Homo sapiens: one gene and its partners. The protein of the gene in region 1 interacts with the protein of each later gene in a pairwise test. Each region holds a gene or a part of one and is shown in the gene's direction. Other genes may lie near its edges.

What was found.
Region 2: the proteins of SFT2D2 (region 1) and REEP2 interact in binary tests that used the Homo sapiens proteins (3 or more experiments, as listed by UniProt).
Region 3: the proteins of SFT2D2 (region 1) and NDRG4 interact in binary tests that used the Homo sapiens proteins (3 or more experiments, as listed by UniProt).
Region 4: the proteins of SFT2D2 (region 1) and TAS2R5 interact in binary tests that used the Homo sapiens proteins (3 or more experiments, as listed by UniProt).

Annotation. Positions count from the first base shown.
Region 1 is NC_000001.11:168,221,922-168,229,014, forward strand, and holds the start of SFT2D2 (vesicle transport protein SFT2B), read left to right. Parts: upstream 1-4,082; 5' UTR 4,083-4,158; coding exon 4,159-4,221; intron 4,222-7,093. UniProt on the Homo sapiens protein: May be involved in fusion of retrograde transport vesicles derived from an endocytic compartment with the Golgi complex.
Region 2 is NC_000005.10:138,442,030-138,447,469, forward strand, and holds the end of REEP2 (receptor expression-enhancing protein 2), read left to right. Parts: intron 1-2,385; coding exon 2,386-2,506; intron 2,507-2,724; coding exon 2,725-2,838; intron 2,839-3,198; coding exon 3,199-3,346; intron 3,347-3,438; coding exon 3,439-3,569; intron 3,570-3,653; coding exon 3,654-3,722; 3' UTR 3,723-4,936; downstream 4,937-5,440. UniProt on the Homo sapiens protein: Required for endoplasmic reticulum (ER) network formation, shaping and remodeling. May enhance the cell surface expression of odorant receptors.
Region 3 is NC_000016.10:58,495,352-58,503,169, forward strand, and holds the start of NDRG4 (protein NDRG4), read left to right. Parts: upstream 1-4,791; 5' UTR 4,792-4,897; coding exon 4,898-4,918; intron 4,919-5,636; coding exon of another isoform or gene 5,637-5,726; intron 5,727-7,818. UniProt on the Homo sapiens protein: Contributes to the maintenance of intracerebral BDNF levels within the normal range, which is necessary for the preservation of spatial learning and the resistance to neuronal cell death caused by ischemic stress.
Region 4 is NC_000007.14:141,786,372-141,791,885, forward strand, and holds TAS2R5 (taste receptor type 2 member 5), read left to right. Parts: upstream 1-3,845; 5' UTR 3,846-3,990; coding exon 3,991-4,890; 3' UTR 4,891-4,996; downstream 4,997-5,514.

The DNA of each region.
Region 1 (7,093 bases):
GGTTGGAGTGAGCCGAGATCGTGCCACTGCACTCCAGCCTGGGTGACAGAATGAGACTCCATCTCAAAAAAAAAAAAAAAGGAAGAAAGTTCAGGATTTGCATGGTGGCCTAGGCTCTTACAATTGTGATAAGGATAAACCTGCTTCATGTGGGACTCAGACACCAGAACTATGTCTGACCTGTGCTGTGCTTAAATGGGCTTTGCCAACACTGCCTTAGGAGTCTCCTTTTCCTAGCCCCTAGGATTAACCAGTTTGAGGAATGGCCTTCCTTTCCTTCTCCTTTTCCTATTCTAGATACATTAAGGTATTCAATCATGATTTTCTAAGGGCTTTTTCTTAATAACCAAGTAGGAATATGTCCACCCTGATGAATTCTGTGTTAATTTCATGCATTAATAATGCTCAGAGAACTGCCTTACTTCCTATTCCTTGGAAGCTAACTCCTTAGAGCTTCCTTGCACACACACTTCTAAGAGACTTTGTAAGAACTTTTTTTGTGTTTAGCTTTTGCTGAGAGGAGGGTGAAATTTAATAGAGCGCACATAAAATTTCATCTAAAGCTTCCTGTTTGTTCATCCTGGCAAAACAGAGGTACAGAAAGGCTGTGAGGGAGTACATCACTCAGCCTTGAGGACTTGTTTGCATCTGCATTGCACAGTGGGGAATGAGAATGTGACCAGTGACTAGAGTAGGTTATTTATTTATTCATTTATTTGAGACGGAGTTTCGCTCTTGTTGCCCAGGCTGGAGGGCAATGGGGCGATCTCGGCTCACTGCAACTCTGCCTCCCAGGTTCAAGTGATTCTCCTGCCTCAGCCTCCAGAGTATCTGGGATTATAGGCGACTGCCACCATGCCCGGCTAATTTTTTTGTATTTTTAGTAGAGACAGGGTTTCACCATGTTGGACAGGCTGGTCTCAAACTCCTGACCTCCTGATCCACCTGCCTCAGCCTCCCAAACTGCTGGGATTACAGGCATGAGCCACCGCGCCTGGCCAATGACTAGAGTAGGTTACTATTTATTTAGCACCTACTATACGTTCCAGGCACTGTGCTTGGCACTGGGGATGGAAAGACAAATAAGATCTATGCCCCATAGGGACCCTAATGTGAACAAATGGAGCATATTGTGCTAAGTGTTATGGTGGAGGTAAGAATAAGGTGACTTGAGAGAACTGTGTGTTAGGGGAAGGGAAAGGGACAAGGATGGAAAAGAGTAGGTGTTTTCCAGGACAAGGTAGGGAACACAATGAGTTCAGGAACTACAGTCTCCTATGCCTGGAGCCTGGAGTATGTGAGAGAAAGGAGAGAGATGAACCCAAAGAGGAAGGTATGTGTTGCTGAGAAGTCAGCAGCAATTTATCTGTAGGTGGTAGGGAACATGGGCATTAGTTTCCTGCAGCTGCTGTTACATATCAGAAATTTGGTGGCAACAGAAATGGATTCTCTCACAGTTCTGGAGGCCAGAAATGCTGAAAACAAGCTATTGGCAGGACTATGCTCCCTCTGGAGGCTCTAGGGGAGAATCCTTTCCTTGCCTCTTCCAGCTTCTAGTGGCTACTGGCATTCCTTGGCTTGTGGCTGCATCACTCCCATCTCTGCCTCTGTGGTCACAGTGCCTTCTCCTCTTCTGTTGGTGTCAAATCTCCCTCTGCTTCCCTCTTATAAGGATATACATGATTGCATTTATGGCTCACCTGGATAATTGTGCATAATCTATTTTAAGATCCTTAATTACCTGCACAAAATACCACCCCCACTCCACTTTTCACTGTCTAAGGTAACATGTACACTTTCCAGAGATTAGGACATGGGTATCTTTTGGGGAACATTTTTCAGTTTACCACACTGTGGGAGATGTTAAGCAGGGCAACAAATGAGTCAGACTTATGTTTACAAAGATCCTTCAAGGGATGGTGTGGCACAGTCAGAAAAAACCTTCTGAAGACATTGATTAAACCTTCCTCATTCTTCTGTGTTTAATGACTACTTAGTATTCTTGTGAATGAATGTACCATAATTTATTTAAGCACTTCCCTCATTTATGAACTTTTAAGTTGTTTCCAATTTTTTTCTATTACAAACAATGCTACAATGAATCACCTTGTAATGGGCCAATTGCACAATGTGCAAATATAAATGTAGGTAAATCAGGAGCCCATATTCTGGGTTCAGACTCAGACACATTGGAGAAAGATAAGAGTGGATGCCTGTTACATTTTACAATAGATAATATTAATGGATTGTGAAATATATACTGAGCACTGTTCTAAGCATTTTTGAAATGGCTTTATTGCAATAGAATTCATATGCCATACAGTTAATTCAAAGCATACAATTCAATGGTTTTTAGTATGTTCAGAGCTGTGCATGCAACCATTACCACAATCTAATTCCAGAACATTTAAATCACCCCATTAGTCTCTTACTACCATTTCCCCTCCTCCATCCCTAGGCAACCATTAGTCTACTTTCTGTTTCTATGGGTTTGCCTATTCTGGACATTTCCTATAAATGAAATCATACAATATATGGTCTATTGTGTCTAGCTTCTGTGAAAGGGAAATATCTTGGGCCCCCCCAAATTACTAAAGGGAAAATTCAAGCTGGGAACTGCTTAGAACAAATCTGCCTCTCATTCTATTCAAAGTTATCACTGTGTTCACTGAGATAAATGCACATCTGATTGCCTCCTTTGGAAAGGCTAATCAAAAACTCAAAGGAGTGCAACCATTTGTCTCTCACCTATCTGTGACTTGGAAGCCCCCTCCCCCCTTGAGTCTTCCTGCCTTTGCTTCGAGTTGTCCCGCCTTTCCAAACACAACCAATGTACTTCTTACACATATTGACGGATGCCTCATGTCTCCCTAAAATGTATAACACCAAGCTATGCCCCAACGACCTTGGGCACATGTCGTCAGGACTTCCTGAGTCTGTGTCACAGGTGCTGTTCCTCAACCTTGGCAAAATAAACTTCCTGGTTAACTGAGACCTGTCTCAAATTTTCGGGCTCCACACTTCTTTCACTTAATACAATGTTTTCGAGGTTCATCCACGTTGTAGCATGTGTCAGTACTCCATTCTTTTTTATTGCATGGGTATGTCACATTTTATTTACCATTAATCAGTTGGTGGCCATTTGTATTGTTTCCACTCTGTTGCCCAAGCTAGAGTGCAGTGGCTTACTGTACTGACAATCATGGCTTACTGCAGCCTTGACCTCCTGAGTCCAAGCCATTCTTCCTCCTCAGCCTCGCAAGTAGCTTGGATTACAGATGCCCGCCAGCATGCCTGGCTAATTTTTAAGAATGTTTTGAAGAGATGAGGTCTCCCTATGTTGCCCAGGCTGGTCTGGAACTCCCGGGCTCAAGCCATCTTCCCAAAGTGCTGGGAATACAGACATGAGCCACCATGCCCAGTCTACTTTTAGTTTTTTTAAGGTCAGAAAAAAAAACAATTGTACAAACACAAAACAATTTAACAATCTATTATTCCTTTCAACATTCCTTCAGTCACTTTTTTTTTTTTTTTTTTTGAGACAGAGTCTCGCTCTGTTGCCCATGCTGGAGTGCAGTATCCTGGTCATAGCTCATTACAGCCTGGAACTCCTTGGCTCAAGTGAGCCTCCTGCCTCAGCCTCCGGAGTAGCTGGGCTTCCAGGCACGCCCCACCACACCAGACTAAGGCCTTGAGTGATTAAAAAGAAAATCTTTTCCTGTGTAGGCACGATCGCAATATGGATGAACCACAGCCTTTGTTCCCGTCTGCACAAGGCTTCTCCCCCGTCTTTGTGTCTCCGGAGCCTTGCACGTGGTAGGTGCTCGGCATTCGTTGACTGGATCAAGTAGGGCGAGGGAGCGCGGCCCGTTCCGGTTTGAAACTGCTCTGGACGCCGAATTAGTGTTTGGCAGCGCCTGGTGGTCTTCAATCCCAGCCCCTCCGGCCCGCCGCGCCCCCCGGGACCAAAACAAGCGGAGGCGAGCGCGGGCGCGCGGGGCATGCCGGGAGCCCCCCGGTGGGCAGGTGCCTGGGCGGGGCGCGCCGCGGTTGGCGCCTGGGCGGCTGGGCGGCTGCCTAGCACCCGGAAGAGCCGTCAACTTAGCGAGCGCAACAGGCTGCCGCTGAGGAGCTGGAGCTGGTGGGGACTGGGCCGCAATGGACAAGCTGAAGAAGGTGCTGAGCGGGCAGGACACGGAGGACCGGAGCGGCCTGTCCGAGGTGAGTGAGCCCGGGGCCGTCGGCCCCCTCTCGCCGCGCTCCCGCCCTGCGTCCCCTGCCCGGGCCTGGGAAGCCTGCGGGGACTCCCTGGAGTTTCTGGACGGTAGCTCTGCCCCTTCTCCTCCTCTTCTTCTGCAGGGCTCCGCGAAGAGGTCTGGCACTACACGGGGCAGTGGCCGCGGCGTCCTTTTCTGCCCCGCGCCCCTTCAGCCCATCCTCCCTGACAAGGGGGCGGCGCAGGAGGAAATCCCCGGACTGAGCTGCGAGTGGGAGGGTGGGCGACTGGGCTGTCGGCCCCGGCCCCACCGGCCGGGGAATGCGCTTTAGGGCCGGGTAGGGCTGGGGGCCCCGAGGTCCAGGCGGAAGGAGCCTTTGCTGGGTGGGTCGGGGCCCCAGACCCGGACTGGGGTGTTGGGGTGGCGGTCCCTACCTCGCGACGGGGCTGGTGGCCGCGCCCCGAGCTCTGCCTTGGTTTTCTGTCCGGTTTAGGTTGTAGGGTGTGACACTCCCACCCGCCCCTGTACACATTGCCTTGTGATTGGGGGTGAGAAACTGCCCCCATCCCATGAGGACAGGGACCACATCTTGTGTCTCTGTCCACACTGCCCACAACTAGTCTCTAGACACCCAGCGCCTCAGGAGACTGCCTGCGTGTTGGTTTGTTTTATTAGAAAAGCTTTTTTTTCTTTTTTTCTGAGACAGAGTCTCACTCTGTCGCCCAGGCTGGAGTGCAGTGGCGCGATCTTGGCTCACTGCAGCCTCTGCCTCCTGGGTTCAAGCGATTCTCCCACCTCAGCCTCCCAAGTAGCTGGGATTACAGACACCCGCCATCAAACCCGGCTAATTTTTGTATTTTTACTAGAGACGAGGTTTCACCATCTTGGCCGGGCTGGTCTCGAACTCCTGACCTCAAGTGATCCGCCCACCTCTGCCTCCCAAAGTGCTGGGATTACAGGCATGAGCCACCGCGCCCGGCCTATTAGAAAAGTTTTGATCGTGCTGAAACCTGGCCACTAATGTCCTATGTTGTAGAACCACACAGAATGCTGCATTTCTATTTAGGGTGCTTTTAGCTTTTGTTTTCCTTTTTGGATGACAAAATAACGTTTCTCTTCGCTTTTTGGTGTATTCTTTAGCCTCCGTTCCCCATCTGTGAAATGAGGATGTTAAGATGATATGGCCAACTGGAAACTAATCAGTGTTTCTTCTGGTTTCTCAGCAAGTTCTTCTTTCTCAGCAAGCTGCTTTCACCCACGTTTGTGGTTGCTGATTTTATTCGGTTTTGTTTTGTGTGATACTGGGACTTAGCATGACATCTCCGAATGTAAGATTGCTCTCTGAATCTTCACCTTGAGGGAGTAATTCTATGGGATCGAATGTTGGAGTCACTGAAATTTAACTTTTTGATATTTCAAAACAAGTTGGTGGGTTCTTTTTAATTTGTTGCCTTTATTAATTGGTCAAGGCTCAGAGTAATTTCACGGGTTTTTTTTTCTTGATTTCTAGCCTCTATTATGAATCTCAAGTGGAACCTCAGACCGGGCCTAAGAAAGGTCTGACTCATAGGTAGCTGACCCTCGTTATTTAAAGCTTTATTTCCATAGACTGTCAACAAGCCTTTATGAACAATTGGTGCTTAAGAGGCAGACACTTTCTCTCCCTGCAGACTCTTGAGGGGTGGAGTGTTGACAGTGGGATGATGCAGATATTATTGTCTCGAAAATCATCACGAAGCAGTGGGCTGACCCTCAACAGTGGACGACTAGTAAAGTTTGCAAACATAAATGCTGAGCTTGTTTTTAACCTAAAATGGTGAACGTCTGTGTTGGATACTGTGAGAAGGGCTTTAATGTGTTATGCTGAGGCATCTGTTGGATCTAATTTAAAAAGAATAGGTGCTTCGTTCTTGTTTTAAAATACTTTGGTCAGTTGGTCAGTTTCCTCTTTCTGAGTGAGATTTCTGTTTATAACATCATTGTATGGCACTTCCAGAGTCTTGAATTCCTAGGAAATGTTTTGTTGCCGACTAACTTCATCTTGCAGGCTGTTTCAGCTTAGTGTTTACTGATTAGGTCAGAGCCTCCTTTAAAATATTGGTACTGATTTGATTGTCTCATATTTTTCATGGTTTGGGGGCTGGTAGAACTGGAGGATTCTGTGGGGAAATTGCTATTTTGTGTGGTAAGTTGAATTAGGCGCTCTTAAAATCTCTTTAAGAGGTCACTAGAAGAGAGTGCTTTTTAAAACCTTTATTCCTTTAATGCAAACCATAAAGGTGTGACTAGTTCTATTTCTCCTACCTCTCCTAGGTAGTTATAAAATTTGCATGGCAGTATCTAATTATAGCCTCACGTTGAATTTTGTGATTGATACCTCATCTTCATAAATACACCTTAAGTCTTTAGTTTCAATGGACTTCTTTCTGAAAGTATAGGTTTTATGTTTTTTATAAAGGATTCTGGGGACAAGAAAGGTATGAATAGTATCTAATTTTAAAGTGTGGAAATGAAGCAGTATTTCTTTCTTACCTTCTTCTGGTTACCAATCCTGTTTTTCTGAACAATTCTTAGTATTATTCTTGGCAAGAGCCCCTCTTCTCTCCACATCACAGAGTGAAAGGGACCTTTGTGAATAACTGCCAGTCAGACTGCCTGTGAGCGCATTGCCTACAAATTCCATCCAGGTACCATTTTAGCTACTCTAATTTCCAAAAACAATATGCTAGCACAGCTTCCAGCAGTCATGAATTTACAGACATTTTATGAGTTTGTTTTCATAATTTGGCAAAAAGAAGTGTTTTGCTTTCACTGAGTCCAGTTATGAGAAGTGGAACAACAGCTTCCTCCTTCCCTGACCAAGTGTGAATGTAAAA
Region 2 (5,440 bases), on another chromosome or scaffold:
CCATGCTGCCTGCGACCTTAGGCAGGTCACAGCTCTCGAGGCCTCAGTTTCCTTATTTGTAAAATAGGCATATGATTCACTCCTATAAATGCTGGATACTTGCATTTCCAAGGCATTTTCCAGGCTGTACTAGACTACGTATGTATGAGCACTTTGAGGACAGGGAATATGTCTTAATCATCTGTATATTCACAGCAGGAACTCAAAAATGTTTACTGAATGATCAGATACCTCTTGGAAGAGGGGACTAATAACACAGTTCATCGGAACTCAAGAAGAGAATTTTACCAAGGGGGAGAGGACAAGAGATCATTACATTTATAGATAAGACCCTTGCATTTGAGAAAAATAGTTTTAGAAGAGGAAAGAGATGGAGAGATGGGTTAAAAATTGAGGGTAAAGGCCGGGTGTGGTGGCTCACGCCTGTAATCCCAGCACTTTGGGAGGCCAAGGCAGGCAGATCACGAGGTCAGGAGATCGAGACCATCCTGGCCAACACGGTGAAACCCCGTCTCTACTAAAAATACAAAAATTAGCTAGGCATGGCAGGGCGCAGTGGCTCACACCTGTAATCCCAGCACTTTGGGAGGCCGAGGTGGGCGGATCATGAAGTCAGGAGATGGAGAGCATCCTGTCCAATACGGTGAAACCCCATCTCTACTAAAAAACAAAACACAAAAAATTAGCCGGGCGTGGTGGCGGGTGTCTGTAGTCCCAGCTACTCTGGAGGCTGAGGCAGGAGAACGGTGTGAACCCAGGAGGCGGAGCTTGCAGTGAGTCGAGATCGAGCCACTGCACTCCAGTCTGGGCAACAGGGTGAGATTCTGTCTCAAAAAAAAAAAAAAAAATAGCTAGGTATTATGGCACCTACTTGTAATCCCAGCTACTTGGGAGGCTGAGACAGGAGAATCGCTTGAACCCAGGAGGCGGAGGTTGCCGTGAGCCGAGATCGTGCCACTGCACTCCAGCCTGGCAACAGAGCAAGACTCAGTCTCAAAAAAAAAAAAATTGAGGGTAAAGGCCGGGCATGGTGGCTCCTGCTTGTAATCCTGGCACTTTGGGAAGCCAAGGCAGGAGGATCACTTGAGCCTAGGAGTTTGAGATCAGCCTGGGCAACATAGCAAGACCTGCCTATTAAAAAAAAAATTGGCCAGGTGCGGTGGCTCATGCCCATAATCACAGCACTTTGGGAGGCCAAGGGGGGGCAGATCACCTGAGGTCAGGAGTTCGAGACCAGCCTGACCAACATGGTGAAACCCCTTATCTACTAAAAATACAAAATTAGCCGGGCGTGGTGGCACATGCCTGTAATCCCAACTACTCAGGAGGCTGAGGCAGAAGAATTGCTTGAACCCAGGAGGCAGAGGTTGCAGTGAGCCAAGATTGTGCCATTGCACTCCGGCCTGGGCAACAAGAACGAGACTCTGTCTCAAAAAAAAAAAAAAAAAAAAGATGAGAGTAGGGCAAGGGTGGTGAGGTGAAAAACAAAACTGAGGGTAGTAAATATAGATGCCTTTTTTTTCTTTTTCTGAGATAGAATCTCACTCTGTCATTCAGGTTGGAGTGCAGTGGTGTGATCTCGGCTCACTGCAGCCTCTACCTCCTGGGCTCAAGTGATCCTCCCACCTCAACCTCCTGAGTAGCTGGGACCACAGGCACACGCCACCACACCTGGCTTATTTTTTATTTTTTGTAGAGATGGGGTTTTGCTGTGTTGTCAGGCTGGTCTTGAACTCCTGGGCTCAGATGATCCTCCCACCTTGGCTCCCAAAGTGCTGGGAGATTACAGGCCACTGTGCCAGGCCTATACATGTGTCTTGACACAGCAAAAGAGAGAGCTTTGATGAAGACTTTGTGAGGACATAGGTGACCTGAAGGAGTTTGTGACCAGAGGAGAAGGCACTATGGGGACTGAAGGGCAATCCTGGAGAAGTGAGGGTCGTGTCACGGTGGGGCAGGAGGGTCCAGAGCAAGCTAGAGAAGTCCCAGGCCTCTCGATGATAGGGAGGGCAGAAAGGGAAGGAGTGAAGACCCAGGTGTAGGCCTGCACAGTCAAGAGTTTCCCTTGGTGTTGACCCTAGGGCAGAGGAAGGGGGGTTTTCTCTAGGAGTGAGAGGGCTGGGGCTTGGGGAGAGGATGAGGCCAGGAGAGTCGCTGCTGGGGGAAATTCCTTCTAGTGTCACTGCTTACCTTCCTGTTTGGAGCTTCAGCTGAGCCCTCCAGACCCTTTCAGATTAGAAAGGAGCAGTCCCATGAGCCCCATGGGGACCCCAGTGCACTAAGAGTGAGGGGCTGTGCAGGGTCACACATGGGGCCGGTGCTGCTGGACACAGGGCACCTCCCAACTCCCTGCCCTGTACTCTGCGCTTGCCCCTGTCCCAACAGGTTCCCCTTCTACTTTGAACTGAAGATCGCCTTCGTGATATGGCTGCTGTCCCCTTACACCAAGGGCTCCAGCGTGCTCTACCGCAAGTTCGTGCACCCAACGCTGTCCAACAAGGAGAAGGTTTGCCCCCACTCTCAGCTCACCTCCCAGCCTGCCCCCAGCCAAGGCAGTCCAGAGCCTGCAGCCTCATACAGACTGGCCCTCCCTGTGGGGCCCAGAGCCCAAAGTGACTTGGCAGGGCTGCCGTGGCCTCCCGGAGCAGGCAGGGGCCTCTGTCCAGGGGTGAACAAGGGTAGGGCAGGACCTCTCCTCTTCTCCCTTCCCCTCCAATCCCATAGGAGATCGACGAGTACATCACGCAGGCCCGAGACAAGAGCTATGAGACCATGATGAGGGTGGGCAAGAGGGGCCTGAACCTTGCCGCCAATGCTGCAGTCACAGCTGCCGCCAAGGTGAGATGGGGGCAGGCTCAGACTCCCAGGGCCCCTACCTTGTACAAAGGGCCCTGGCCAGGCCCCTTTGCATCCACCCTGTACTCGGGGCTGTAGAGACTCTGGGCTCATGCAGCTGGAGGCTCCAGTCCAGGCTCTACTGCTATCTGGCCGAGTCACTTTGATTGTCCGGCCATTTCCCCATCTGTCCCCAGAGGCAAAGTGTGGCCCTGCCCCAGCCCTCAGCTCTGTCTGTGTGGGACTGGGTGAGGACAGTGTGGGGAGGGCACCGAGCCTGGGGCTGCTGCCAGCACCATGGTGACCTCTATCTCCACCCCGCCCCTTCCCCCCGGCTCTCCCGGTGCGTGGTGGTGACCCTAGGGCCAGGGGGTGCTGTCAGAGAAGCTCCGCAGCTTCAGCATGCAGGACCTGACCCTGATCCGGGACGAGGACGCACTGCCCCTGCAGAGGCCTGACGGCCGCCTCCGACCCAGCCCTGGCAGCCTCCTGGACACCATCGAGGACTTAGGTACAGGCAGGGCCCGGGGTTGGGGTGGGGCCCCAAGGGCAAGGAGTCCAGATGGGAAAGATTCCCCCACCTCCTTTTCTCCCTGCACCCAGGAGATGACCCTGCCCTGAGTCTAAGGTCCAGCACAAACCCGGCAGATTCCCGGACAGAGGCTTCTGAGGATGACATGGGAGACAAAGCTCCCAAGAGGGCCAAACCCATCAAAAAAGCGCCCAAAGCTGAGGTGAGGGCACTGGCCAGAGCTTGGGGAAACAGGCAGGGGGTGGCGGCTCCAGGCTGAGCCCCATCTTCCTCCTTCTTTCCACAGCCACTGGCTTCCAAGACACTGAAGACCCGGCCCAAGAAGAAGACCTCTGGCGGGGGCGACTCAGCTTGAGCCCCTCCACCCCCGCAGGCTGCAGAGCAAGGATGAAGCCTCAGGAGGGGCCTCAGACCCAGCCCCTGCTCCACACTGTGCCAGTAGCCTAGGTGTCTCAGGCCCCTGGGCCCCGCAGATGGCCATTTCCGGTGCCTGCCCAGTGGCCACTCTTCTGGAAGGGGCTTGGAAAAGAGGAAGGAGGCCCAGCTGTGGGGGTTGAGGGTAGAGGGTGGACCAGAGGCTGAGGACTGAGCCACCCAAGGAGGTGGGGACTGCTCGGCCTCCACCGCTGTTCCGCTGCAGCCCCGCCCTGCCCCACCCACCCAGTGCCTTGCTGAAGCCCATAGCAATCCGCTTCTCAGAGGTCCTGTCGTGTTTCCACTGCTCGCCTTGGTTTGGGAGCAGGGAGGGGGAAGTCCTAGCCCAGATGGACCAAGGACGGGCCTGAAGGCACATGGGGGAAAGGGAGCACACGGGGAGGACGTTGGGGACCCTGGGTGGGGCCTCCAGGTGCAGCTGTGGATGGAAGACAGGGATTGGCCTGTGCTTCAGCGACCAGGATGGCCAGGCCAGAGCTGCAGCTGGGGGCTCTTTTCCTGGTCATTGGGTGGGGCTGAGTGCCACATGTTCCCACATTAAAAAGGGGGGTCCAGGGCTGTGTGAGTGTGTCTTTCTGGGTCTAGGGCTCGGGGTAGTTTGGGTCAAGGACTGTCCCTCCAGCAGTCGCCTCCTCCCACCCTGAGCCCCACAGTCATCTGGCCCTTTCCCTGCTCAACCCTCCATCCTAGGCTCTGAGCCTCAGAGGACCCAGCCCATGAGAGAACGGGGATCTGGGGGGCCTCTCACCTGCTCCTATGACCTTGCTCCCTTTTAGGTCACCCCATTGCCACCGTGCCCCTGGGCTGGACTCCCGTGCTCCTCAGGGCCCACCCCTGCTCTGTCTGGTACAGGCCCCTGCTGAGTGGGCCCCTCTCCTCTGCCCCTGGGGTCCATCCCCTCTTGCCCAGGGTCCCCATCCTGTACCAAGCAGACTGGGCCCTAAGACCCCTGGCAGAACCCAGCCTCTGCTCACACCCGCCCCAGCTTCTGCCACGGCTTCAGTCAGGGCCAGGAGGAACACGTGAAGGAGAAAGAGAAATGCAGGAGCCGCGGGGCTCCCGGTTCCTTGGGAAGAGGGTGCCCATTGGACCTTTGGCACTGGATGAGCCAATAAACCAAACTCTGGCACCTCATTTATTTTGGCCTCTGTGCTTTGTTCTTGCCACACCAGCTGACAGGTGGGAAGGACCTCAAGTGAGAAGCAGGGTTCAGCTGGGGGAGTGGGGAGGCCAGCCTGTGACTGACAGGAGCTCTGGTGCCCAGCTAAGAGATGGGCTTGAGGGGGCTCAGTCTGGGAAAATGGTTTTGGGACTCAAGATAAAACCAGAGGCCTAGGCTGGGCGCAGTGGCTCATGCCTGTAATCCCAGCACTTTGGGAGGCCGAGGCGGGCAGATCACGAGGTCAGGAGATCAAGACCATCCTGGCCAACATGGTGAAACCCCATCTCTACTAAAAATACAAAAATTAACCAGGCATGGTGGCGCGTGCCTGTAGTCCCAGCTACTTGGGAGGCTGAGGCAGGGGAATTGCTTGAACGTGGGAGGCAGAGATTGCAGTGAGCCAAGATCGTGCCACTGCACTCCAGCCTGGTGACAGAATAAGACTCCGTCTCAAACAAAACAAAAAACAAACAAAA
Region 3 (7,818 bases), on another chromosome or scaffold:
ACTGAAAGCGCCCTTTGTTTTTATTCCTCCGGGTGATGATGTTGCTCACTCGGCCAGTCGTTTCTCCCCTCTGAGTCCCACAGTGACCATTGATTTCCGGGTCTGGGAAAATGCCTGACAGCAGACACAAGGGAACCCTGCTGGGTTCTGGGGCCCCACTGGCCATCCCGACATGCTGAACCAATTCAGACCCTTCCTCCTGGTAAGGTGGAAGCAGCTCCCGAGTCTCTGTCCTTGCCTGGGCCTGACCTGGTTTTGGGTCAGCCTCCAAGCCCCGTGACAGCACCAGCCAAGTGGTCTGGATGCAGGGGTGACACGGAGGCGGGGCTGCCCTTTGGCTCGTCCCCCAGTGGGAGCAACGCGAGGATCAGTGTGAGAATCTGGGCCTGTGTGCTGGTCCCTCGGTCACGCGCCACTTCAAGGACGAGAGGGGAGACTTCAGGGCAGCCAATGTACATGTGCTCAGATCCTCCGGGAATGCCATCTCCAAGCACAAAGGGCTCTGGAGCTGGAAGGAGAGGCTAGGGTTCCGGCAGTGGGGAGTGAATGGGAGCCCAGGAGGTGGGATGGGAGGGAAGTGGTCGGGAGCTGGCCCAGGCTGGTGGGAAGGGACAGCCGGAGATCAGGGCAGGCTCACCAGGGGATTTTCTTTGTCCTCCATGCTGCAAATGAGGATGAGCTATGCAGGCAAATGGGCCCTGGAGGAGGGGGTTGGCCAAGTAAAATCTCAGAGCAGCCAGCCGGTGCCTCAACACACTGGTCCCACAGTGTGGGAGGCCGACGCCAACAGTGCTGATGCCAGCCCCAGCACACAGGCCCACGGTGTGGGGGACAGGCAGAGGGGAATCCTGGAGTCGTGGAGGAGACCCTACCATACCTCTGGGTTCCCAACTGCTGCTGCGAAGCTGCCTCTGGCCCCTGAGCCCTCTGAGCTGCAGCCCCGGAGTTGCGGGGCCCAGGGTGTGTGGGACCCCGGTTCTCAGGATCCTCTGCTTGGTAAAAGGCAGGTTGCATTAAAAGGCACCTTCCTGTCCACTCCTGTCACACCACATGGAGGCAGCATTTTTTTCGTTTTTTGTTTTAGAAAAGCAGCCACAAGAATGGATGGTCGTTATCTGGGCCAAGACCTGGCAGGGATTTTATCTCCTGCTCACTATGGCAGGCGTTGTCACTGTCCCCTGCCTCCGTGGGGGCAGCCAGTGGGGGAGGTAGTATAGCAGAGGGACTAACATGAGCCAGACAGACCTAGGTTCTGGCCCCGCCACTTCCAAGCATGTGACCTCCAGCCCAAGTCACTCCATTTGTCTACCGCATTTTCAGGGAGACAGGCAGCACGGACCTCCCGAGTGTTTCTAAGGCGATGGTGCCCATGGGCCCCTCATATGGACACTCAGCTGACCGTGACGAGTGGCCACCAGAGTGTGGAGTTAGCACCAAACTGCCTGGGTGTGGTTCCTGGCTCTGTGCCCACTAGCTGTGTGATGTTAGGCAGGTTACCAAACCTCCCTGTGCTTTATTTGCCTCATTTGTAAAGAGGGTATTAAGAGAGAAAATGAGTGCTCGCCCCAGCAGCACATATACCAAAATTGGAATGATACAGAGAAGATGAGCACGACCCCTGTACAAGAATGACCCACATATTCGTGAAGCCTTCCATACTTAAAAATATTTTCCAAAAAGAGGATAAAGGCTGGGTGTGGTGACTCATACCTGTAATCTCAGCACTTTCGGAGGCTGAGGCAGGTGCATCACTTGAGGTCAGGAGTTTGAGGCCAGCCTTGCCAATATAGTGAAACCCCATCTCTACTAAAAATACAATAATTAGCCAGGTGTGGTGGCAGGCGCTGGTAGTCCCAGCTACTTGGGAGGCTGAGGCAGGAGAATGGCTTGAACCCGGGAGGCGGAGGTTGCAGTGAGCAGAGATTGCACCATTGCACTCCAGCCTGGGCAACAGAGCAAGACCATGTCTCCAAAAAAAGAAGAAGAAGAAAAAAAAAGAGGGATAGAGAGAATGGGTAAAGCACTCCAAGAAAGCCTGGCACATGGAGGACATTTGAACATAGTGTTTGCCACTCTTGATTCTGAGACCTCAGGCCCACCCAGAGTGCTGGGGTACTAGTAGCTGCCGCTGCTTACTAGCCAAGTGAGGAAATTACCTAACCTCTCCAACTCTCAGTTTCCTCATCCCTTCTCATAGGTCCATGAGGATTATATGTATTATCCTTGCAGCTGCCTGTGCAGTAGGCACTGCTGTTTCTCCCATTTACATACGGAGGCTCAGAGAGGTTGATTGACTTCCCCAAGGTCACACAGCAAAGAAGTGGCAGAGCTATGAGTGGCACCAGGGTTTGGCTGGCAAGACCTGGGTTTGGCTGGCAAGACCTGAGCCTGCCTTGTCTGGCCACTGTAACTGCACAACCACCAGAAAAAGGGCCAACAATTTGGAGAGGCACACAGGCTGCCTCATTTCTCCCCTGCCAGGACCTGGGCAGGGGTGGGGTCAGATCTAGAGTGATTTCTGCAGTTTTTTCTGATTCTCACAGCAGCTTGGTGAGAAAGGCACACAGTCCCTGCTTTACAATTAGAAGCCTGAGACACAGAGAGGTTAAAAAAAAAATCTTGCCCAAGGTCACCCGGCTGGTAGGGGGCCAGGAAGGACTTAAACCCACGTCTGTGGGTTTGCAGACAGCTGAGCAGTCATGGAGGCTGTGGCTTGGAGTGGGCAGTGTCGCAGGTCAGCTTGTCACCTGGGTCCAAAGGTGGGGAGAGGCCACTCAGGGGTCAGAGGTTGGAGTGGGCGTAGGATTGGGTGGGGCCTTGGGGGACATGGGAGGGCATTGTGGGCAGAGGGCAGGGCTGTGCCTCAGTTTTCCAAGCCTCTTCCTGTGCCACAGTGCCTGCAGGAATGGGGAGCATGGCCAGGAGGTGACGGGCCAGGGGGACTCCCCATTCTACTTCCTGCTGCCCTGGGGAGCACAGGGCCTGTCAGTCTTCCCTAGGCCTCCAGAGTAAGAGGTGAGAGATGGAATAGGTGCCCCCAGGCAGAGGACATGACCAGCAATAGTGTACATAGCAGGTGTCGACCAGGTCAGCAGGTACCCAGAGATGAAGAGATGACCACTTTCTCCAAGGGCAGCCAGTCAGCATGCAGGGCCATCAGCATGGGCTGGGGTGAGTGGCGTGTTCCTTCTTCAGCAAGACAGGGAGAGGAAGCCGGATAGGAGGCAGCTACTGACGTTGACATGCCCACCTCCTGTAGACCCACCCGGCCCTTGTTCCTGGAGGCAACCAGTTTGGGGCTTGGCTCTCGGGTATCTGGGGAGCAGGACACTAGGGCTATCTCAGGCTCTGTGCCCTGACCCCACCCTTGCCCAGGCCCTGGCAGGAGAGAAATGGGGCAGTCTGTGTGCCTCTCCAAACTGTTGGCCCCTTTTCTGGCAGTTGTGCAGTTATCGTGGCCAGACAAGGCAGGGTCAGGTCTTGCCAGCCAAACCCTGATCCCACTCATAGGTCTGCCACTTCTTTGCTGTGTGACCTTGGGCAAGTCAGTCAACCTCTCTGAGCCTCCATATATAAATGGGAGAAACAGCAGTGCCTACTGCACAGGCAGTTGCAACGATAATACATATAATCTTCATGGATTTGGGAGCATAGGCACGCAGCAGCCCCCTTCTCTCTGTGGCTCCTGCTCTCCCAGCCTTGGGCCCCCTCCTCTGCTTCCCTCTCTGGCCTATTTCCTCTCCTCCTGTGCACTTCTTGGCCTTTCTTCTCCTCTGCTCACTCCACCTGCAGGCCTCGGGCGAGCTCGCCACCCAGATCCTTGCTGCCCAGGAGAACAGGGCACGGAGCCTGAGATAGACCTAGTGTTCTGCTCCCCAGAGACCCGAGAGCCAAGCCCCAAACTGGTTGCCTCTGGGAACGAGGGCCGGGTGGGTCTACAGGAGGTGGGCATGTCAATGTCAGCAAGCTGCCTCCTAGCCCCGCTTCCTCTCCCTGGTGGTCTGGAGCCCCTGGCAGCAGGGTGAGGGTGGGGAGGGCAGAGCTGGTGTGTGCCTGACCATACCCCTGGCCCTGCTATCTGCCCAGGGCCCCTGGCCCCCGGCCCCCAAACTCCATTTTCAGCATGTGGGGAAACCCCCTGTATCTGCGTGGGCAAGGTGGGATTTTCATCCCTGGTGGGTGGAGAAGGAGCAGCCCCTTGAAGCAGGGTGATAACCCAAGTTGCCCCAGAAAGCAGCAGCTCCCCAGGCCTCCACAAGGTTAAGCGATGGAACCTTCCTAATGGGAAGGCTGGGCGTGGGGGTCTGGTCCCCAAGATGTTGGGCTTGGGGCCCTCTCGGGCCCTCCATACTCCCCAAGGTGTGGGTCAAGGGCTCTAGCTGTCTGGGCAGTGCCCATGCACCCTGCCCTGCCCCGCATTGGTAAGCTGTGCATGTCTGTGACGACCCTGTGTGTACCTGACATGGGTGAGTCTGTACGTGTGGTCTCGGCTTTTGTATTCGGAGGATCCCGTGTGAGCTGCAGCTGTTGGCGTGTGCCTATGTGCTGGGGGCGGATGCAGGGGCTGGGGACCATCAAGGATGATGTGTGGCTGGGGTGGGAGGAGCAGTGACAGGGCTGGGGCAAGGAGGACTTCAGAAGCCAATTGGAGCCAGGCTTGTCTCCCAGCAGCCAATATGGGAGCTGGGGCTCCTGGTAAGCGAGTGGCTGCTCAGAAACCCTGCGGGGAGGAGGGGCTAGCTAGGCTGGGCCAGGATCCCTGTATAAATGGCCCAGGAGCTGTGCCCCATCACAGAGCCGACCATCTCCCACTCGAGCTGCCCCCGCCCTCTGGACCCGAGTGACTCAGGCCTTTGTTTGTCCTTCCTGGTAGAGGCGGGTTCCCTCCCTCGGCAAGATGCCGGAGTGCTGGGATGGGGTGAGTGAGGGCGCTGCGGGCATCAAGGTGGGCCGGGAGGATGGTGCATCCTTATGACCCACCGCAGGGAGGAAGTGCCCCCCTCAACCCACATCTGGTGGCAGCCCGGCCTTCAAATAGCCTCACCCTGGGGTCACTGAGACACGGCCAGAGTGCTCCAGGTTCCCTGGTGATCCTGTTTGCAGGAGTGGCTGGGGGCAGCTGCTAGTCAGAGCCCATAGCAGGGGCTGGGGGGAGCGTGTGGTTGGGGGGTGGGTGACATATCTGCAGGAAATGGAACGTGGAAGGCACTGTCTGACTTGGCTGCATTGCCCGTGTGGACCCGGGCGCTAGTGCCTGCATGTCCCTCTGACCGTGTGCCCTCTGGTGTGCGCTTGGATGGTGTCTGCCTTGGTGATGCCTGGGGCCATCAGGCCAGGGGGCGGGGGTGTCCTTGGTGAGCCCCCGAGGCTGTGTGCCCAGTGTGCGTGCCGGGTCTGTGCGTGCAGGGGCTGCCGTCCCAGTGGGCGGCCGTCTAGCTTGTTTGGATGGCTGCGCCAGTGTGATGGGAAGGACAGGCGGCCTCTTCCTTAGGAGCCACCTCACAGTTCCCAGGGCTCTGCTGCGCCAGCCGGGCAGAGGCAAGGAGGTCTGGGCCACACAGGAATGACAGCCTTTCAGGCAGGGGTCCCTGCTGGGGAGGAACGAGGAGGGGTTGCCTGCCTGCCTTATTTTGTAGGTGGGGGAAGGCAACGCTGGAGCCGTGAAGCTGGCAGGGCTAGGGGACCCCAGGTGGAGCCCAGGGCACCTCCTCTCGCCGGGGCATCAGGTACCCCGGCCCCATTCTTCCTCAGGAGGGAGAGGCAGGGGCAGACTCACCCCCACCCCCGGGCCCCACACGCCTGCCCTGCCGGTTCCGCAGACGATAGGTCACCCCGCACGCACGGAGGTGACGACGTCAGCACCTGCCCGCCCATGCAGACCCTGTCCCCTGAATTATTGATGCGGCTGACAGGCCGAACCACAGCACCACCAGCACCAACTCCCACACCGGCGCAAAGCCCGGCTCAAAGCCCCACTCCCCTCCAGTGCTCAAGGTCACAGGCGAGGGGAGACGGACCGACCGAGAGGAGCCGCCACAGCCCCCTCCCCTGCTGCCGCAGTGCTTCCCGCCTGCGCCTACCTGGAGGCGGGGCCGGCTCTGACGTCACCCAGAGCCAATGGGAGTGCTCGGCCCTGAGGGTTGGGGGCCTCAGAGTGCACCGCGCTGTGGCCCTTGTGGGGCTGCCCTTGCGCAGCGCTCCAAGGGACGGGGATGTTTGGCTTCGATCAGGCTGAACTGAGTCCTGAGCTCTCCGCAGAGGGTGAGAGAAGGCGTTAGGGAGGTTCGCAGCAGGGTTCAGCGAAGGTCACTGGACTTCGTAGGACAGGTAGCCCGGTGACGCCCAGGCCCAGCCCCAGCCCTTCCCATCCTGGGAGATGAGCCCTAGTAGAGCCTGATCACGTCACCTCAGGGGGATGGGGACAGGGGCGGCCACACCAGGGCTGGGAGAAGACAGTGGGGCCTCCTCAGCAGCAGAGAGCAGACACCCCTCACACCCCTCAGGCGGACCCGCACGCTGCGGGTCTGGGTTTGGAAGGCACCGCCCTGGGCTCTCGACGTCTGACCCCAGGAGGATAACTGTCCTTTATGCAGCAGGAGGCGCATTGCAGTTCTTTTGCAGCCCCACCCTCCAGAGCTGAGAGAACTCACAGGTGGCTGTGAAAGGGCTGCCTGGTCAGGAGCTCCCTCGGGTGGAACCTGATCTCCTGTGAACATGCAGCCTTCAGTGCACCGCCCTGGCCCCTGAGACTGGCACCTGGCAGGGCCTGCCCTCCCTACTCTGGGATTGACCTTGGGCAAGTCATTTCCCTTTCCTAGCCTCAATTTCCTCCTCTATGGCTTGGGCCTATGTGGGAAGTAAATGAGAAAACTGTGGGTCAGTGGTCAGTGGCGGGGAAGTGTTCCTGGATTTGATGGGCCCCGAGAAAGGATAGGCCTGGGATGGGAGGGGCTGTGTGGTCTGTCCCCTCTCAGCCCTGGTGTGGCCTCCTCATCCCCTGGGTGGTGCAATCAGCCGCATGGCTCACCCTAAGGCTCATTACCTGGGCTCTCCTGGAGGACAACAGGGAAATAAAAAGGGCCTGCAAGTCAAAGAGTGTTCTCCAGGGTAGAGCCTTTGGCCACCAGGTTGGTGCCAGCTTGTCACTCCACACTGGAGACACAGGCCTGGACAGTGGTCCTCTGAGACCAGACCCACTAATGCTGGCCCCTGAGCAGCTGTCTTCTGCTGTCTAAATCTCCTTTCCCATTTGGAGGCAGGAACTCAGGTTCTTTCTAAACCAAAGTGTCCTCACCTGCAAAACAGGGACTAGGGTTCCTGTCTCTTGGGTAACATGCAGGAAGCCTGGCACACAGTAGGTGCTCAGTCGCTTGATGTTTCTTTCATGTCCTTGACCCCAGCCCCACCTCCAACTCACTGGGCCACTCACGTGGTTCCCAGGGCTCACAATGATGCAGAGAGGATCGGTTTATTTAGCTCAGATGGCCCCTCTTGAAGTTTGCCCATCCGAGTGGCTAAGAATGCCCAGTTTGCAAAGGAACAGCGAGAAGGGCATTCTCCCAAGGCTCAGGGATGCCCTAGCATAACAGCCCCCTTTCTGGGGCTTTCTCCAAGTGCTAAATGCTCCACAAACATTGGCTTGTCTAGTTCCCGCAAAGTCCCTGTGAGGTGGTTCTGGATGGAGAGGCTGAGGCACAGCAGAGAAGTAACATGACATGCTCAGTCACAAGTAAGGGGTAGAACCAGGTCTTCCTGAGGAAGTAATGACCTTGAGCAGCAAAACCAAAGGTGTGAACTCAAGAGGATCCCAGAGCAGGC
Region 4 (5,514 bases), on another chromosome or scaffold:
ACTTGCCCCTATGAGCGTCTCTTTGGATGCTTGCATCCCGCTTGATGTTTCATCAGCTTTCTTTTCTTGGTTCAGGTACTGCTAAAGTAGCTGAGGGCTCAGAACAGTGGGGAATAGGAGCATGAATGCAAGAGACTTTGGTAGAAAGAATTATGGTAGTATTATGGCAGACACATTTTGGTTGTGTCAAAATTAAAAACCATAGTGTTACTCTGGTAAAGAGGATGGCACTGAGGCTGTTACTCTCCACATACACCCCTTCATTGCAGCTCTTGGTGTGGATGCCGATAGGCTGAACAGTTCTGTGTGGAGATGAAGTAGCAGCCGTGGTTCACAGATTTCTCTCCTGCCTCACCTCTCCTAGAATTTATTATTCAGCAGTTGATATTTATCCTGTCTTCTCCTTGTTTTTGCTTGTTTGCTCACCCTATCCTTCCCTTTGTTTTCATTGTCATTGCAGTAAGCCTTTGCATAGGTGTAAATATGGCTCTCATGTTTATATATTCAAATTTCAAACATATTGAAACCATTAATTATTTGCCTCACCCACCAGAACATAAGCTGCATGAGAGCAGCAACTTTGTTTCTTTCCATTGTATCCCAAGAGCTTGGAACAGTGGACTGGCACATAGTAGTCATTAATAAATATTGGTTAAATAATTGATAAATGTCATGCTTTCCCTTTTTTTTTTTTTTTTTTTTTTTTTGAGACGGAGTCTCTCTCTGTTGCCCAGACTAGAGTGCAATGGCATGATCTCGGCTCACTGCAATCTCCACCTCTCGGGTTCAAGTGATTCTCCTGCCTCAGCCTCCTGAGTAGCTGGGACTACAGGTGTGTGCCACCATGCCCGGCTAATTTTTGTATTTTCAGTAGAGATGGGGTTTCACCATGTTGGCCAGGCTGGTCTCGAATTTCTAACCTCAAGTGATCCACCCGCCTCGGCCTCCCGAAGTGCTGGGATTATAGGCGTGAGCCACCGCGCCCGGCCCATGCTTTCCCTTTTTATAACATGAGGTACCTTGCATTTGCCACTGTTAAATTCTCAGACTGTCTTACTTAGGTTTTGTGGAGTTAGGTCGGGTGGAAGTAGGATTTCAGGAGACTGTGCTCTAGGCTGTCTGGATTTTAGTTCTTTCCTTCGGAAGGCCATTCTGTAATTGTGTCTCTGTACCTAATGTCAGATCCCAGGCCAGTGTCAGGTAGATGTAAGTGACGGTGGGACCGTTACCTTCAAGAACGTTTCTTCTGGTCACAGCTGTAACATCTTTACCAGAGAAGGGATTTCAGACAGTAACAAAACTGAGTGGTGAGAAGTGAAATGCTCTGCCATAATACTGATACCGTCCCCAGGGATTCTGACACAGCCAGCAGCAGTACGTGTTCATCAGCACTGAAGCAGGGCACCTCCTGATTCAGCAGAGAGACCCTCCCCTCCCCAGCCATGTTGGCGGCTGCCCTAGGATTGCTGATGCCCATTGCAGGGGCTGAATTTCTCATTGGCCTGGTTGGAAATGGAGTCCCTGTGGTCTGCAGTTTTAGAGGATGGGTCAAAAAAATGTAAGGAGTCCCTATAAATTCTCATGATTCTGGTAAGTAGCCACTTTCTCCTACTCAGGCCGATCATGTTGGACATAAGTCTGTTTCCACTTTCCCAGAGCAGTGGTTGGCTTTACTATCTTAATGTCTTCGAGTCCTGGTAAGCCAGGCCAACATGTAGTTTGCCACTTTCTTCAGTGGCTTCTGCTGCATGGAGATCATGACCTTTGTCCCGCTGACTTCTTGTAGCTGAAAAGACTGGGTTTTTGTTTTTTGCTAGTGTCTTTCAAGATCACTTTTTATTTCTCAGCTCTTGTTGGCTGGACCCTTTAAAAACCCTTAACAGGAAACAGCAACATCCTGCATCCCATTTTAAATCTGTTATTTTTATAGATTGCTGTCCAGTGAAGGAGACTGATTGCTATTTGTGATGTTTCTGTTCCACTTGTCTTTTTGTAAAGACATCACAGGAAGATGGAGGACCACACAGCTGTCAGGAGGAGGCTCAAACCAAGGTGCTCATCGCTCTGAACTTCCCCCTTTACATGGTTTCTGCCTTGGCCAGACACTTTTCCATGACCTTCTAATCTCCCTCTGATCTCACCATTCTTGCCATCTCTGCAACACTCATGGCTGTTTATACTTCATTTCCGTCTATTGTAATGGTTATGAGGAATCAGACTTGTCAGAGAATTCTGTAGGAGATGATATGTACATGGAAATCCTAGAGGCCATGACTTGGAAGAAGGATCTAATCAGGCCCTTAACTGTATCACTGACAACAGTAAAAATAACTGTAGATTTTAGAAAAATGAAATTTTTATTCTCAATTCTCCTCATTTCTTCTTTGATTTTGAAACAAAATGAAAGGGTAACATGAAAAACAGGCTAGAAACTGGAGCTTATTGCTCTCTAAGCAATGCAAATCACATCATTTTAATAAACTACAGAAGTCAAAACCGAGTTTTCATATTTTGCATGGGAAGTATCACATTTTTAAAAATTACTGCAGATAATCAAGTTTTCTTTGCCAATATGCTATGTTTTTGATAAAAGGAAGTAGAAAATAGCTATAGTTTGAAAATAATATATTTTAAAAAGAGGTGAGCCTGTATATTTTTTAGGCAAGCACTTTTCTTAGGGGAATTAGCTAAATTATTATCTCAATTTTCTATGTAGTTTAGCCTCTCAACACCGGTAGTAAAGTAGTCAAAAACCTACCTTTATATTTCTGGATACTTTGGTTTTTTTGATGCCAGACTAGCTTTCTGGAAACGTGTCAGTTGGCTACCAGGATCGGTGGCAAATTCCACTGCCAGGCTAGATTGGGGCAGGTGGGGAGAGAGAGGCACTATGTCTCTATCAGAAAGTCACTGAAGAAACACTGTTTTTGGACGAGTTCAAGCCTCATCTAGATTTTTAGTCCAGTAGAAGATCGCGACCACCTCTGCCCCTCCATAGCCTACAGCCAGAGTTTTAGAGTACCAGGCCTTGCAGCTTGGTGGAGATGATGTACAATGGATGCTACCTGGAGGCAGGGACTGTGTATTATAATGGCGCCGTCCCCTGTGCCTAGTACACCGTAGTTTGACACAAAATAAGCACTTTGTAAATTTAGTCCGAAGGAATGGAAATCTCATCCTACAATCCATTCAGTTATTAATAGAGCAACTGAGGCCCAGAGACGGGCAGTGGCCTGCCTGCCTACAGCTTCGTAGAGAGTTCTCAGCATGCTTACTTTTTTTTTTTGAGATGGAGTCTTGCTCTGTCGCCCAGGCTGGAGTGCAGTGGCGCGATCTTGGCCCACTGCAGCTTCCATCTCCTGGGTTCAAGTGGTTCTCCTGCCTCAGCCTCCCGAGTAGCTGGGACTACAGGCAGCCACCACCACGCCCAGATAATTTTTGTATTTTTAGTAGAGATGGGGCTTCACCATGTTGGCCAGGGTGGTCTCGAACTCCTGGCTTCAGGTGATCCACCCGCCTTGGCCTCTCAAAGTGTTGGGATTACAGGTGTGAGCCACCATGCCTGGCCCAGTGTTCTTTTCATGAAAATAAAATTTCTTTTTTTATATAGCATATGAGCTCATAACTGGCACTGTATAGCACCTGAGCATGTTTTGATTTGGTCTTTCTTGTTGAGGGGCCTTGTTACGTTATACCCTGGTGTCTAGACTTTGGCCCAAAACCTTTGAGATGGAGAGCCGGTGTCTGTGGTACTGTTTGCAATCTCTGGTTCTACACTCAGGGTTCATTCATGTAGATGCAAATACAGATGGTATCATAACTTCCAACCTCTCTGTTCCTCATCACAGCTGTTCAGTCTCGCTTGAAGACAGATTACGGAAGGACGAGGCCAAATCCAGATTTTGTGGTGTGAAAATTTACCCTGGTGTGTTATCACTACCAGGGGATCTGACCTCAGCCAGGAGCAGTGAGAGCCTCCTCTCCCCAGCCATGCTGAGCGCTGGCCTAGGACTGCTGATGCTGGTGGCAGTGGTTGAATTTCTCATCGGTTTAATTGGAAATGGAAGCCTGGTGGTCTGGAGTTTTAGAGAATGGATCAGAAAATTCAACTGGTCCTCATATAACCTCATTATCCTGGGCCTGGCTGGCTGCCGATTTCTCCTGCAGTGGCTGATCATTTTGGACTTAAGCTTGTTTCCACTTTTCCAGAGCAGCCGTTGGCTTCGCTATCTTAGTATCTTCTGGGTCCTGGTAAGCCAGGCCAGCTTATGGTTTGCCACCTTCCTCAGTGTCTTCTATTGCAAGAAGATCACGACCTTCGATCGCCCGGCCTACTTGTGGCTGAAGCAGAGGGCCTATAACCTGAGTCTCTGGTGCCTTCTGGGCTACTTTATAATCAATTTGTTACTTACAGTCCAAATTGGCTTAACATTCTATCATCCTCCCCAAGGAAACAGCAGCATTCGGTATCCCTTTGAAAGCTGGCAGTACCTGTATGCATTTCAGCTCAATTCAGGAAGTTATTTGCCTTTAGTGGTGTTTCTTGTTTCCTCTGGGATGCTGATTGTCTCTTTGTATACACACCACAAGAAGATGAAGGTCCATTCAGCTGGTAGGAGGGATGTCCGGGCCAAGGCTCACATCACTGCGCTGAAGTCCTTGGGCTGCTTCCTCTTACTTCACCTGGTTTATATCATGGCCAGCCCCTTCTCCATCACCTCCAAGACTTATCCTCCTGATCTCACCAGTGTCTTCATCTGGGAGACACTCATGGCAGCCTATCCTTCTCTTCATTCTCTCATATTGATCATGGGGATTCCTAGGGTGAAGCAGACTTGTCAGAAGATCCTGTGGAAGACAGTGTGTGCTCGGAGATGCTGGGGCCCATGATCTGGGAAGAAAAGTGTGGTCAGGACACTCTTGGGACGCTCTTTTGATAGCTCTCTATAAGGGAGCTGCTTTCCATGTCTTTTAAGATTTTCCTTCTTTTACACCAATGTAATGAATGAGCAACAGAAAATACGGATCAAAACCCAATACTATGTCTCTTTTGGCAATGCAAAGTATATTTTTTTAATGTACCACAGAAATCAAGGCTAGGGCTTCATGTTTGGTAAAAGAGGTATTATATTCTCTCTACATATAGCAAATAATTCATATATAAATCGTGTTTTTCCTATTATAAAAAGCAGAGATTAGGAACAATTCTGTCTACATATAGCAAAAATTCATATATAAATTGTGTTTTTCCTAGTATAGAAAACAGAGATTAGGAACAATTATAGTGATCATTAATTTTTATGAAATTTTACCTATACATTAATGTTAGTCATTTTAGATATGCTTTTTAAAAAGTATCAAATAATTTCCCCATTTCTCTGCTGTAATGTATCTAATTATCTAACTGAAAAACAAAACAAAACATCTTTATATTTCTGGAAGTTTCTTTGAGCCCTAGCCTTGGCTTTCAGAATAAAAATCAGGCTCACGCCTGTAATCCCAGCGCTTTGGGAG